3 linked regions of the Homo sapiens genome follow. The protein of the gene in region 3 purifies or fractionates together with the protein of the main gene of each other region. This does not show direct contact. Each region holds a gene or a part of one and is shown on either strand. Other genes may lie near its edges. The genes, in order: NBEA, TANC1 and AGAP3.

Region 1 (3,649 bases), on a different chromosome or scaffold from region 3:
TGTTTAAGCTTACATAAATGTGTGGAAGTTAACTGGCATATTTGGTTTGGGTAACATTGAAATACTTAGCCTAAAAGAAAATAGCTTTTAATATTGCTGAGTTATCTGTGTGATTTTGGCAATCCTTATAATAAATCATATATAGCTGTATTTGTTGATTATTTCCAGTTACTTAATGAAACTAAGCACTTGCTTTAGGACTAACAAATGCCAGCTTTGAAGTCTTAAACTTTCTGGCATTATTTTTTCTATTTCCACAATTTAATTTGTATTATTTAGTTTTTTCTTTTTGATATGTACAAAATGCCTTAATGTTTTCTTTACTTATTCCTAAGGTCACTTATGAAGCTCATAAGGAATACCTAGCCAAAATGTATGAGGAATATCAAAGACAAGAGGAGGAAAACATTAAAAAGGGAAAGAAAGGGAATGTGAGCACCATCTCTGGTCTTTCATCACAGACAACAGGAGCAAAAGGTGGAATGGAAATTCGAGAGATAGAAGATCTTTCACAAAGCCAGAGCCCAGAAAGTGAGACCGATTACCCTGTCAGCACAGATACTCGAGACTTACTCATGTCAACAAAAGTGTCAGATGATATTCTTGGAAATTCAGATAGACCAGGAAGTGGTGTACATGTGGAAGTACATGATCTTTTAGTAGATATAAAAGCAGAGAAAGTGGAAGCAACAGAAGTAAAGCTCGATGATATGGATTTATCACCGGAGACTTTAGTAGGTGGAGAGAATGGTGCCCTTGTGGAGGTTGAATCTCTGTTGGATAATGTATATAGTGCTGCTGTTGAGAAACTCCAGAACAATGTACATGGAAGTGTTGGTATCATTAAAAAAAATGAAGAAAAGGATAATGGTCCATTGATAACATTAGCAGATGAGAAAGAAGACCTTCCCAATAGTAGTACATCATTTCTCTTTGATAAAATACCCAAACAGGAGGAAAAACTACTTCCTGAACTTTCTAGCAATCACATTATTCCAAATATTCAGGACACACAAGTACATCTTGGTGTTAGTGATGATCTTGGATTGCTTGCTCACATGACCGGTAGCGTAGACTTAACTTGTACATCCAGTATAATAGAAGAAAAAGAATTCAAAATCCATACAACTTCAGATGGAATGAGCAGTATTTCTGAAAGAGACTTAGCGTCATCAACTAAGGGGCTGGAGTATGCTGAAATGACTGCTACAACTCTGGAAACTGAGTCTTCTAGTAGCAAAATTGTACCAAATATTGATGCAGGAAGTATAATTTCAGATACTGAAAGGTCTGACGATGGCAAAGAATCAGGAAAAGAAATCCGAAAAATCCAAACAACTACTACGACACAAGTAAGCTACCTTATATGAGTTCTAGAAATAAATAAAAATGCATTGAAGAGTTGTTAGCACCAAAACAGAGTAATTTCTTATCAGTTACTTCATGTTTATATTGAATTATAGTATAATAGTAATTTATGGAACTAAATAGTGCGGTATAATTTCATGTATGTAAGAAACTAAAAATATCTCAATTATATTTCCAACTCTGCCACATTCTTCTGTGTAACTTTGCTCAACCTCTCTGGGCCTAAGTTTCCTTATCTAGTACAAGAGGTTGTACTAAAGGATGACCTTTAAGGTCTCTGCCAGTTCTAACATTTTATAACTCTGTGACTACATTTACACATTTTGTACTCAAGATCTTCATTCTGAATACTTGATTAATTTTAACCTTTTAAGCTTCAGGCCCAACCCTGTTCTGTGGATTATAGAAAAGAGGACTTGGAGCCCAGATTGAACTGATAAATGAAGGGGAAGGGAAAAGGGAACTGTTATTTATCCAGTGCCTACTATGTTCCGGGCACTGTGCTATATGTTTTCAGATTTAATCCTCACAACAACCCTGTGAGGTAGGTAATATGGCTGAGAAAAATTAGAATTGTTAGCAGTGAGAATTTTCTGTTCAACCACATGAATAGAAATTTGTTATAAGACAATTAAAGACTCTTAGGTCTGGTTGTTAGGAAATGTTAGTGCTTCAGTTTTGACCTCACTGGAATAAAGCTAAAAACAGATGATGTTTTCTGATATGGATTTTAATTGTTGAGCTCTGAGTTATGACTGTTTCTTTATTTTCTAGGATAAATAATACCTTATGGTTAAGAGTTGAAGAAATAAGAATACATTTACCGTTAATGACTTGGGTTTTGTTATCCTCTGGGTGCCCCACTTGCCTTTTAATGTCATTGAAAATACATTGAATGTGTTTCCATTAGGTTTATACTATGAAGAGTAAACCATGCCTGTCTTGTGTCTTTGTACTCCAGTAAGAATCCTTCATAATATATCGTGTGTGGGGAAAGTATTTTTATTTTTTCTCTAACTGCCAATTTCCATTTTTGTGGCAGTTGCATTGTAGTGATAATTGGCAGGAGATGAGCATATTGAATTAGATACAGATGTAAAATAAAGGAAAACATCGTGCGTTGTTTATTGAACAATAGGCTTGCCTGTTGAACACTAGGCTTGCCTGTTTTTCATTTGGAGTTTATAGACATTTTTCTGGTTTGTTTTCTAACTTATCAAATGCATTTGTGTTTTTGAATTGAAGTACTGTAAGTGAAACAGACTTCAAAGTTAACTTGAAACTGTCAAGTAATATTTTTTCTAATCTTGTGCTTTAGTTACAATTAGTTGATGACATATATCCAGTATACTTCACTGTGTATATGCTCACTTCATTAAGGAAGTAATGTGGTCTAATTTAAAGACTCTTAATGGGGTAAAGGGGTCTGGTTTTCAGTGTGAACTTTGGTGTTAACTTTAGGTATTTGATTATCTTGCCTAGTTTCTGCAATAGTAAAATAAAAGCAATAATGGAGACTTCAGCCCAAAAAGTTTCCTGTGCAAGGAATTACCAGGTGAATAATATATGTGAAATATATTAAACTGCTAAAGTCATATGCTAAAGCATTAAAGCATTATTCACTTTACTATACTCACAGTTTCATTTTAAAATGAGGCATTTCTTTTGTATTCCACAAAAGTTCATCTTTTCCTTCTTTAGGCTGTGCAGGGTCGGTCTATCACCCAACAAGACCGAGATCTCCGAGTTGATTTAGGATTTCGAGGAATGCCAATGACTGAGGAACAGCGACGCCAGTTTAGCCCAGGTCCACGGACTACAATGTTTCGTATTCCTGAGTTTAAATGGTCTCCAATGCACCAGCGGCTTCTCACTGATTTACTATTTGCATTAGAAACTGATGTACATGTTTGGAGGAGGTAGAAATATTTCTTTTTTATAAATTAAAAGCAAATATTTAAAATATGCCATTGCCTATTCTATTTGGTTTTGACAAAACCAAAAATCTGCCTTGATTAAAGGAATTTCCACATTTTTCTTGTATCTTGTTTAAATTAATACCATGTACTAAATTTATTAGTGATAATAATATATACTGTTTAAGTTTAAAATCACCCTGTGACATGTGTATTCAGAGCCTGTAGTATTTAAGCAGTTAGTGGATATCAGTTCAAAGATGATAACTTAGACAACAAATCTACATAAAGTAAACCATGGCCTTTCTAAATTTTCAATTTAATTTTTTAATAGTAAATGTGAAACAAATTAATTAAGAGAGCAC
Region 2 (3,649 bases), on a different chromosome or scaffold from region 3:
CCGGACAGTGCCAGCTGCGGCTTGGAGGATTGCTCTGCTGTTGGAACCTCGCAGTCTTATCCATGATGCCCATGAACGGCGTGTTGCGGGGTCTGTGCTCAGCTGTACCGCTCTGAACGTGGGTTACAACCTTGTCTTTAATTCTAGTATCTGGTCCTTGGACCTTGAAGCCATCTGAAAAACTGCTGCTCGAAGTCAAACTACTGGTTGAACTTGACATCTTTATGCTGCTGGATGGAGAACCAGAAGAGCCTGAGCTGGTGAGGGAAGCTGGGTGTCGCACGTCGCTGCAGGTCGCCAGCCCACCTTGGTTTGGAGGGGCTGCGTCCACAGCCACGGAGGAATGAGACAGAAGCCTCTCTGTGGTTTTCGTCTTACTTGGTAAAGGGTGTGCAGGGCCATTCTCACCACACTGCAGGCGGACATTCTGGCTGGGGCCCAGCCGATCCCCAAAGTGGCCACAACCAGCTCTTGTAGTGAAAGTACCTGTTCCCTCTAAATGCTGGGTTCTGCTCCCAGCAGGAGTGGCAGCGATTCTCCCTGGCATGGGACTTGGAGGAGGGTTCTGAGAAGAGATCTGAACTTTCATACTGCCATTTCTCACTGCCGACTGGCCAGAGCCCAGGTGCTGGCTGGTTTTCACGATCTGGGCCTGCTTGGAGGGCTGCAGGAGCAGCCCTGGCTGGGCCACAGGCTCTCTCAGGGACTTGCCGATTCCTGCCCTGCTCTGTGGCGATACCGGCCTTCCTTTGGACTGTAACCCTTCTTGAAGGTTTCGGATGTATGAGGAAGGGACAGATGAGGATGGCTGGGACCTGGGAGTTGGGGAAACAGATTCTTCCTGGGGAGAAGTTTCTTCCTCTTCAGTCTCCTCAGAGTGAAAGTGGTCACTTAAGCCAGGGGTTGGGGTGTCCTCTTCGTTCTCGGAGTCGTTGAGTGGAGCTGGTAGCGGGCCCTGCTGTTTTTGCTGTTGACTCCTCTGGAGTTGTTTGCACTCCTCTTCTACGCGGGCCAGAAGCCTCTTGACTTCCTGATTGGTGGGACAGAGTTTCACAGCCTCTTGCAGGTCAGCCAGAGCTGCCACGAATTGCCTTTGTAGGAAAATGTAAGGTAACATTACAAACCACACACGAACATGCTCAGAGTGTAACTGTTCATAAAAGAGCTGTGCTCAAAGGAAAGAGAAGGTAGCAAGTGAGTTTTGAACACTTACGGTGGTGGCCAGGACCCACTTAACCAGCCCAGAGTAACTCAGCTAAGTGGCAGTGCTGAATTCTAACCTAGGTAGGTGGGACTCTACAGCCCTGCTCTCCATAAAGACCACTGGACTGGGAATAGGGAGAAGCATGAATCAGTGGGCGCCAGAATCTTTTTAATATTGTTACCATCCCATGGTAACACTGTGCCCATCTCTCAGTCAACAGGCTTATATCACTCTTCCCCACCTCTGAACTTCCTAATGTCCCTAGTTGGCAGTTTCCTTGAAATATGGACTAAACTAGGTAGGAAGTTCATGTTGCAGTAAGTTTCACGTGGGGGGAGGGGTGGGAAGGAATGATTATTGAGACGTCAGGAGAAAATAGAAGTTTACTCATCACTGATAATGTCCACTACTATGCCTCTTGGAAGCAGGTAGTAATACTAATTCACTACTAAAAAGGATGAGAGGCACCTGAGCAACACTTCTGCAGCAAAACCTCCCCAAATTCAACAGGCAGGTTTGATCCCACAAGAAAAAAAGCTCTAGACACAAAGATAACCACAGACGGTACCTGCTATTTCTCTTCGCTCTTGCTCTGGCATAAAAGGCTTCATAGGACTTGGGCTTCAATTCGAGAGCCTTGGAAGCAAATTCCTCTGCCATGCCAAAGTCCTGGTGTCGACAAGAAATACAGGAGTCAGAAGCAGCCTGGACACACGATTGTGGGAAGCCCGTCTAGTTTTGTTCTAAAGGGTAGCAGCGCTCTGAGGCACAGCCAGAGAGGGAGGAAGGGAAAGTTCCGTTTTCTATCTTGTTTTAAAGTGAGGAGATAATGATGGTTGATTAATATCATTAGGAGAAGAATCCACTATGAAAACAGTGGTAGTAACAGTGCCCCAAGAAGGCCAGATGGTGGAACCTCACAGCCCGGTGGAGGGGCAGCCTCAGAGAGGAGCGCAGACACTGCATCTATTCCGGCAGCAGGGCACAGAAGCAAGCAGCTCAACAGACTGGGGCAGGAGGACACAGTTAAAAAAAAGGTAGGAAGTACTACTGAAACAGATCTACTAGTTACAAATCGACTATGAGTTCCCCACGACCGGTTACAAATTAGTTACTGGCAGACCCTCTGAGCAAACCTAACACAGAAGGCAGGCCCACCACAATAGGCTTGGGTTGGACTCTCCTGAATCCGGGGACGGCAGTGCCAGCAGCAACAGTGTTGGGAAGCTGCAGAGGAGCAGACTGCATTTGCTTCTCATTACTGAGGCCAAGGAAACGAAACCCAAGTGCATTCCTTCAACATCATGCGAGGAGCGTAGCAGCCGTGACCAAACGATAGTCACGGATAGGAGCTGTTTCCCACATGCCAGGTTCATGTAAATGTGCAAGCAAATTGGACAGGAGGGCCCAGGATCTGGTCTGGAGAAGGGCTGGCCTTCACTGCTGGAGAAGGGCTCTGTTGCTGGAAGACTGGGTTGGAATAAAGGGGCACAGCTTACATTTGTTTTTCTTCGGCATCGCGACAAATTGAGATAGAGGGAAACCCTTAATTCATTGAAGGGTCTCATGTCCTCTCCGAATCCTTCTCGAGGAAACTTTCTTAAGGCATACTGGTACCTCTGGGCTGCCTCTTTCATTTTCCCTTTCTAGGATTCAAAAATCACAAACATTTGTCCTTTTTCAGAGGTTCTAAAATGAATAACTCCCACACCTGGAACACCGTGGGGAGTTTACTCCCCCCTGCAAACCCACGACAGAACATTGAAAGCATCCAAACAAGTGTCAAGGTGGGAGCTAGTTCACTAACTGGGCTGGCACATGAGGGCTTCACTGTCCTCACATGCACCCGCATCCTGTGGTTACACAGTGAGAAAGAAGCTGGTTTTACAATAAGGTGTCTGTAAACTGCTAGATTGATAATTACCAAACTTAATGAATCAGATTACCTTCTGGTATGTATTTTTGAAAATTATTTCAAGAATGATCTCAAATCTATTTGAATGCTAAGTGTAATAGAAATCAGATGAAAAACTGATCCTATTCCTAGGACAAGTAGCATCTTGTAGATAAACCTAGAGAGCTTGCTGCAGAATAATAATTTTTCTTCTAAGAGGAATTAAAACATGGGCTTTAAAAATCAGAACAGCACCACACATCATTTTCAAAGCTAAAAAAATCCATTTGCTCAGTCAGTCCCATTGCACAGCAGGTATGAAGCCTGTTGAAAATGGCTTCCTATTTCTGACATAATTGCCTACCAATCCATATTAAAAGCACTTCAAAGCCACAACAATACACTCAACTCAATTTCAAGCTGATTCCAAGCCAGGAACCCTGCTGGGTCATGCTATATTGCCTATTTATTTGTTACTATTTTAAAAAATGAGAAGGAAAAAATCTACAACATACCAAATACAGCTGCCTAACAGTAAAAAGGATTAACAT
Region 3 (3,649 bases):
CTGTCTCTCCACTCCCAATGTGCGACACACAGTGCCCATCCAAACCCTAATCCTCCAGCCGGGCTTGGCTGGATGTTCCAGGAGTCTTGGGCCAGACAAAGGTGGGTGAACCCCCGTGTGGGTTGTCACGAGAGCGCCCGCCCCTCCGCGTCACTCCATGCGCCTCTTTCCGAGAGCAGGGCTTGGCTCTCAGCCTGGGCCCGAGTGCGGCCAGCCAGGCCAGATCTCCGGACCCTGCCCGGACAGAGCTGGCACTTCCAAGCCCTGCTCACTCATCCTCGCCTCTGCCTGCCCAGCTCACTTCTCCCTCCCGGCTGCCTGCCTCTGTCCCGAGCCCGCCACCTGCCCTCGCGGCCATCCATGCTAACAGAGACTCTGTGCTGACGGTCCGCCACACATTGCAGCTGCCCGGCCCTGACCCTGCCTAAATGTGCAGCTTCTCCTTTCTATCCATGGCCATTGAGACATTAGAGCGTGGGGGGGGCCGCCTGCTCGAGCCCACACCTGCTGCTGCTGCTGCTGCGGGACCCTTAGGTGCCTCTGTCCACGGTGCCTACTGCCAGGGCCTGGGCACCCTGCTCCCTGGCATCGTGCCTCAGTCATCCGCTGCCTCAGTTCCATTCTTAATCTCCCCTTCCCCTCGTTGGCAAGCTCTGTAGCAACCCCAGGGCACCCCCTGCCTTTCCCTGCCCTGCTACCCTCTCCTCCGCCCACGCCCAGTCCCCGGCCTCCTCCCTTGCGCCCCGTGCTTCCTGCCATCCTGTGCTCTCTGCTGCCTGCCTCGACTCTGCTGCCCTCCCTCCTGGCTGCTCACGGCACGGCCTTCCCTCTGGCGCTTCCATTCTCTCCATCCTCACAGCGGCGACCTTATATTTTCCTTCCATTGTTTCTGTGGTGACCTCACTTGCACCATTGTCCCTGAGACGGCCTCAAGACGCGTCCGTCTCTGTGGGTGTATCTCGGGACCTCCCCTCTCATCATTGCTGTTGGGGCCTCCCCTCTTCTCCCTCATCGTCCTCCCCAGCAGCGACATGCTTGCTCGAGGGCGAGCCCCTGTGTCCTGCCTGCTCTGTGGCTAGTGACCCCCTACTGGACATGGTTGTGCTGTCCCCAGTCTCTCCTGTGACTTCATGTGCTCATTTCGTTGCTGCTCTTGCCCCAGTTCCTGTCCGCATGGGGAGGTGCCCCTCTGGGCTCCCAGGGGTCCTCTGGTGGTCGGGGCCTCTTGGCTCACAATCTGGCTGGGGTGGGCTGCACCCCACTCCCCCCAAACCGGCTCTTCTGTCTGGGGACCCGGTGGCAGCAGTCCCATCCACCTTCCTCCTCCCTGGGCCAAAGGGGCAGAGGGCTGTGGCGGTCTGGGCCGTGGAGCCCAGGAGGGGATGGGGCGGTGCCGCCTGTGGAGCTGCTGGGTGGCACTTTGCTCTCCGGCGGCTCTTTTGCCCGGTTCTCCTTGTTCCCTCTGGCCTTGCTTTCTCCCACGCTGCAGTTGTGGCCCTGTGTCCCCTCGCTGTGCCCTTGGCTCCTGGCAGCCTGGGAGAACGGGAGGGATGGGGCCTGGGCTGCCGAGTGGCGAACATACCATTCCGTGCTGAGGTGGACGCTTGGCCTGTGTCTGCCCAGCAGGTGCCGCTGCCGCCCGCCGCCGCCGCCGCCTCCTCCTCCTCCTGGTCCTCCTCCTTCTCCTCCTCCTCCTTGTCCTTCTCCTCTTCCTCGTCCTTCTCCTCCTCCTCCTCCTCCTCTTCATCCCGCTGCCGCCGCTCCCCAGGCGCCTGGGTCTCTGCCCTCACCGGTGCTGACCGACTTGTGCGGGGCTTGAGTATAACTTGCCAAAATCTTTATTCTTTCGATATTTGCAGATATGTGCCACTGTTTCCAACTTTTCATCAACAAAAAGGCCTTTCCAACTCCTTCCAAATTAGAAGACCAGTTGGTGACACACAGCACCTCTGGACATGCCCCCTGTGCGGGGCCGGAGGCGGGCCGGGCCCTGGGACTGCTCTCAGATGAGAAGCGGCCGCCGAGCTCCCCACTCCAGAGACCCACGGGAACCTTTGTAACTAACCCCACCCCCAGGGAAGGCTAGGAGCGCCGGAGCCCGCGCTGGGGGCTGCCGGGGACCAGGCCCGGCCGGACGCTGCAGGCTCGCTGCATGGAGAAGAAGGCAGCTCGGCCCCACGCCCGGCGCTGGCCAGCGCGACGAGGCCCAGAGGGGCGGGGGAGTCCAAGCCCGCCCGGCCCGGCTGCTCCTGGGGGGCGCTTTCCTGCCCCTCCCCTCCTCTGCTCCTTCCTGCATGGACCTCTGCCGTTCCTGCTCCTGCTCCGGAAGCCGCCGCCGCCGCCGCGCTTGCCTTGCCCCCTCTTTTTGGCCTCCCCCTATTTCCTAGGATCCGCATTCGGGTGGACTCTGCCCCAGGAGCTTGACAGGGTGCAGGGCCTCTTCTGGCCTCTCTCCTCTCTCTGTCCATCCACTGTGCCCCTTGGGCCACGCCGACGCGCTCGGTGCCACGTGCCGTGTGGTGTCTGTGCCGCAGACGGGCCATCTGCCCGCTCACTTGTGGACTTTGCGCTCCCGGTTGTCGCGCCCTGTGCTCCCGACCAGCAGCCCCACCGTCCACCTCCTCGCCCCCGCTTCTCTTACGCCCCCGCCCCGGGCGTGCTCCTCGCGCCCTCGGCCTCTCTGTCCTTGCTCTTTTGTAAGGGGCGGGCCCGGCTCAGTGACCTGTGCTGCTCTGTATGGTGCCGTGTGTAAGAATAAACCCGTTGGAATACTCGTGGTCTCAGTTCCTTCCCGTCCCGCCGCCCCGGCCCGACCCACTGCTAGGGCTGCCCAGGAGGAGGGAGGCAGGAGGGAGGCCGGGAAGTCCAGGTGGGCAGCTCTCGGCAGACCCTGGGCCTCTTTAACACGCCTCTTGTTTTCTCTTCCAGTCTCGGAAGGGTGCTGACCTGGACCGGGAGAAGAAGGCTGCCGAGTGCAAGGTGGACAGCATCGGGAGCGGCCGCGCCATCCCCATCAAGCAGGTCAGCGCCTCCCTTCCCGTGTGCTCCAGGGCTCAGAATGAGGCCCAGGAATGTGGCGCTTCCCAGGGCCTCTTCTCAGGCCTCTGTGATGGGGGAGATGGCATCAGAGGCCAGCACCACCCTCCTAGGCGGAGTCCTTAACAAGGGACTGGCTCTCCAGTGAGAAGCCACCTTCTCTGCGCCGCCACCTTCAGGCCACGAGCTCTGCCTGTACCTTCTGATCACCACCGGAGGGCAGCAGAGAGCTACCTGCCGTGTTCAGCCAGGCGCTCAGCCTGTCCCGCTGGTTCTGGAGTTGGGTCTGGAGAGGGTTGAGTGGCTCTCTAAGGAAAATGAGCAACCCGAGAAGCCTGCGTGGAAGGGGATACTGAGGGCTAGTCCAGCGCTAGGTCTGTTGGCATGGTTTTGTTAATAAGGGCCTCTGTTCGTCTTTAAAGAAAAAAGTAGACTACCTCCTCACCTCTCCCACCTCCTTTCTAGTCAGTCCTGGGGGCCCTGGGCCTGCCTTCTTCCACACCTCCGGTCTTGGATTCCTGCAGTGGACACGGCATTGCCCCACGGAGGGCGTCTCTTTGATGTGTTGAGCCAGAGCAGCTGGGGTGGATGGGGAGGCATGTCTTTGGTGTGT

The links.
Region 1: the proteins of AGAP3 (region 3) and NBEA purify together in Homo sapiens (affinity purification with mass spectrometry; one large-scale study listed by BioGRID and IntAct). This does not show direct contact.
Region 2: the proteins of AGAP3 (region 3) and TANC1 purify together in Homo sapiens (affinity purification with mass spectrometry; one large-scale study listed by BioGRID and IntAct). This does not show direct contact.

The regions. Positions count from the first base shown.
Region 1 is NC_000013.11:35,158,681-35,162,329, forward strand, and holds part of NBEA (neurobeachin), read left to right. Parts: intron 1-335; coding exon 336-1,352; intron 1,353-3,069; coding exon 3,070-3,287; intron 3,288-3,649. UniProt on the Homo sapiens protein: Binds to type II regulatory subunits of protein kinase A and anchors/targets them to the membrane. May anchor the kinase to cytoskeletal and/or organelle-associated proteins.
Region 2 is NC_000002.12:159,227,020-159,230,668, reverse strand, and holds part of TANC1 (protein TANC1), read right to left. Parts: intron 2,851-3,649; coding exon 2,704-2,850; intron 1,874-2,703; coding exon 1,773-1,873; coding exon of another isoform or gene 1,768-1,772; intron 1,092-1,767; coding exon 1-1,091. UniProt on the Homo sapiens protein: May be a scaffold component in the postsynaptic density.
Region 3 is NC_000007.14:151,120,866-151,124,514, forward strand, and holds part of AGAP3 (arf-GAP with GTPase, ANK repeat and PH domain-containing protein 3), read left to right. Parts: intron 1-1,859; coding exon of another isoform or gene 1,860-2,086; exon of another isoform or gene 2,087-2,773; intron 2,774-2,928; coding exon 2,929-3,021; intron 3,022-3,649. UniProt on the Homo sapiens protein: GTPase-activating protein for the ADP ribosylation factor family. GTPase which may be involved in the degradation of expanded polyglutamine proteins through the ubiquitin-proteasome pathway.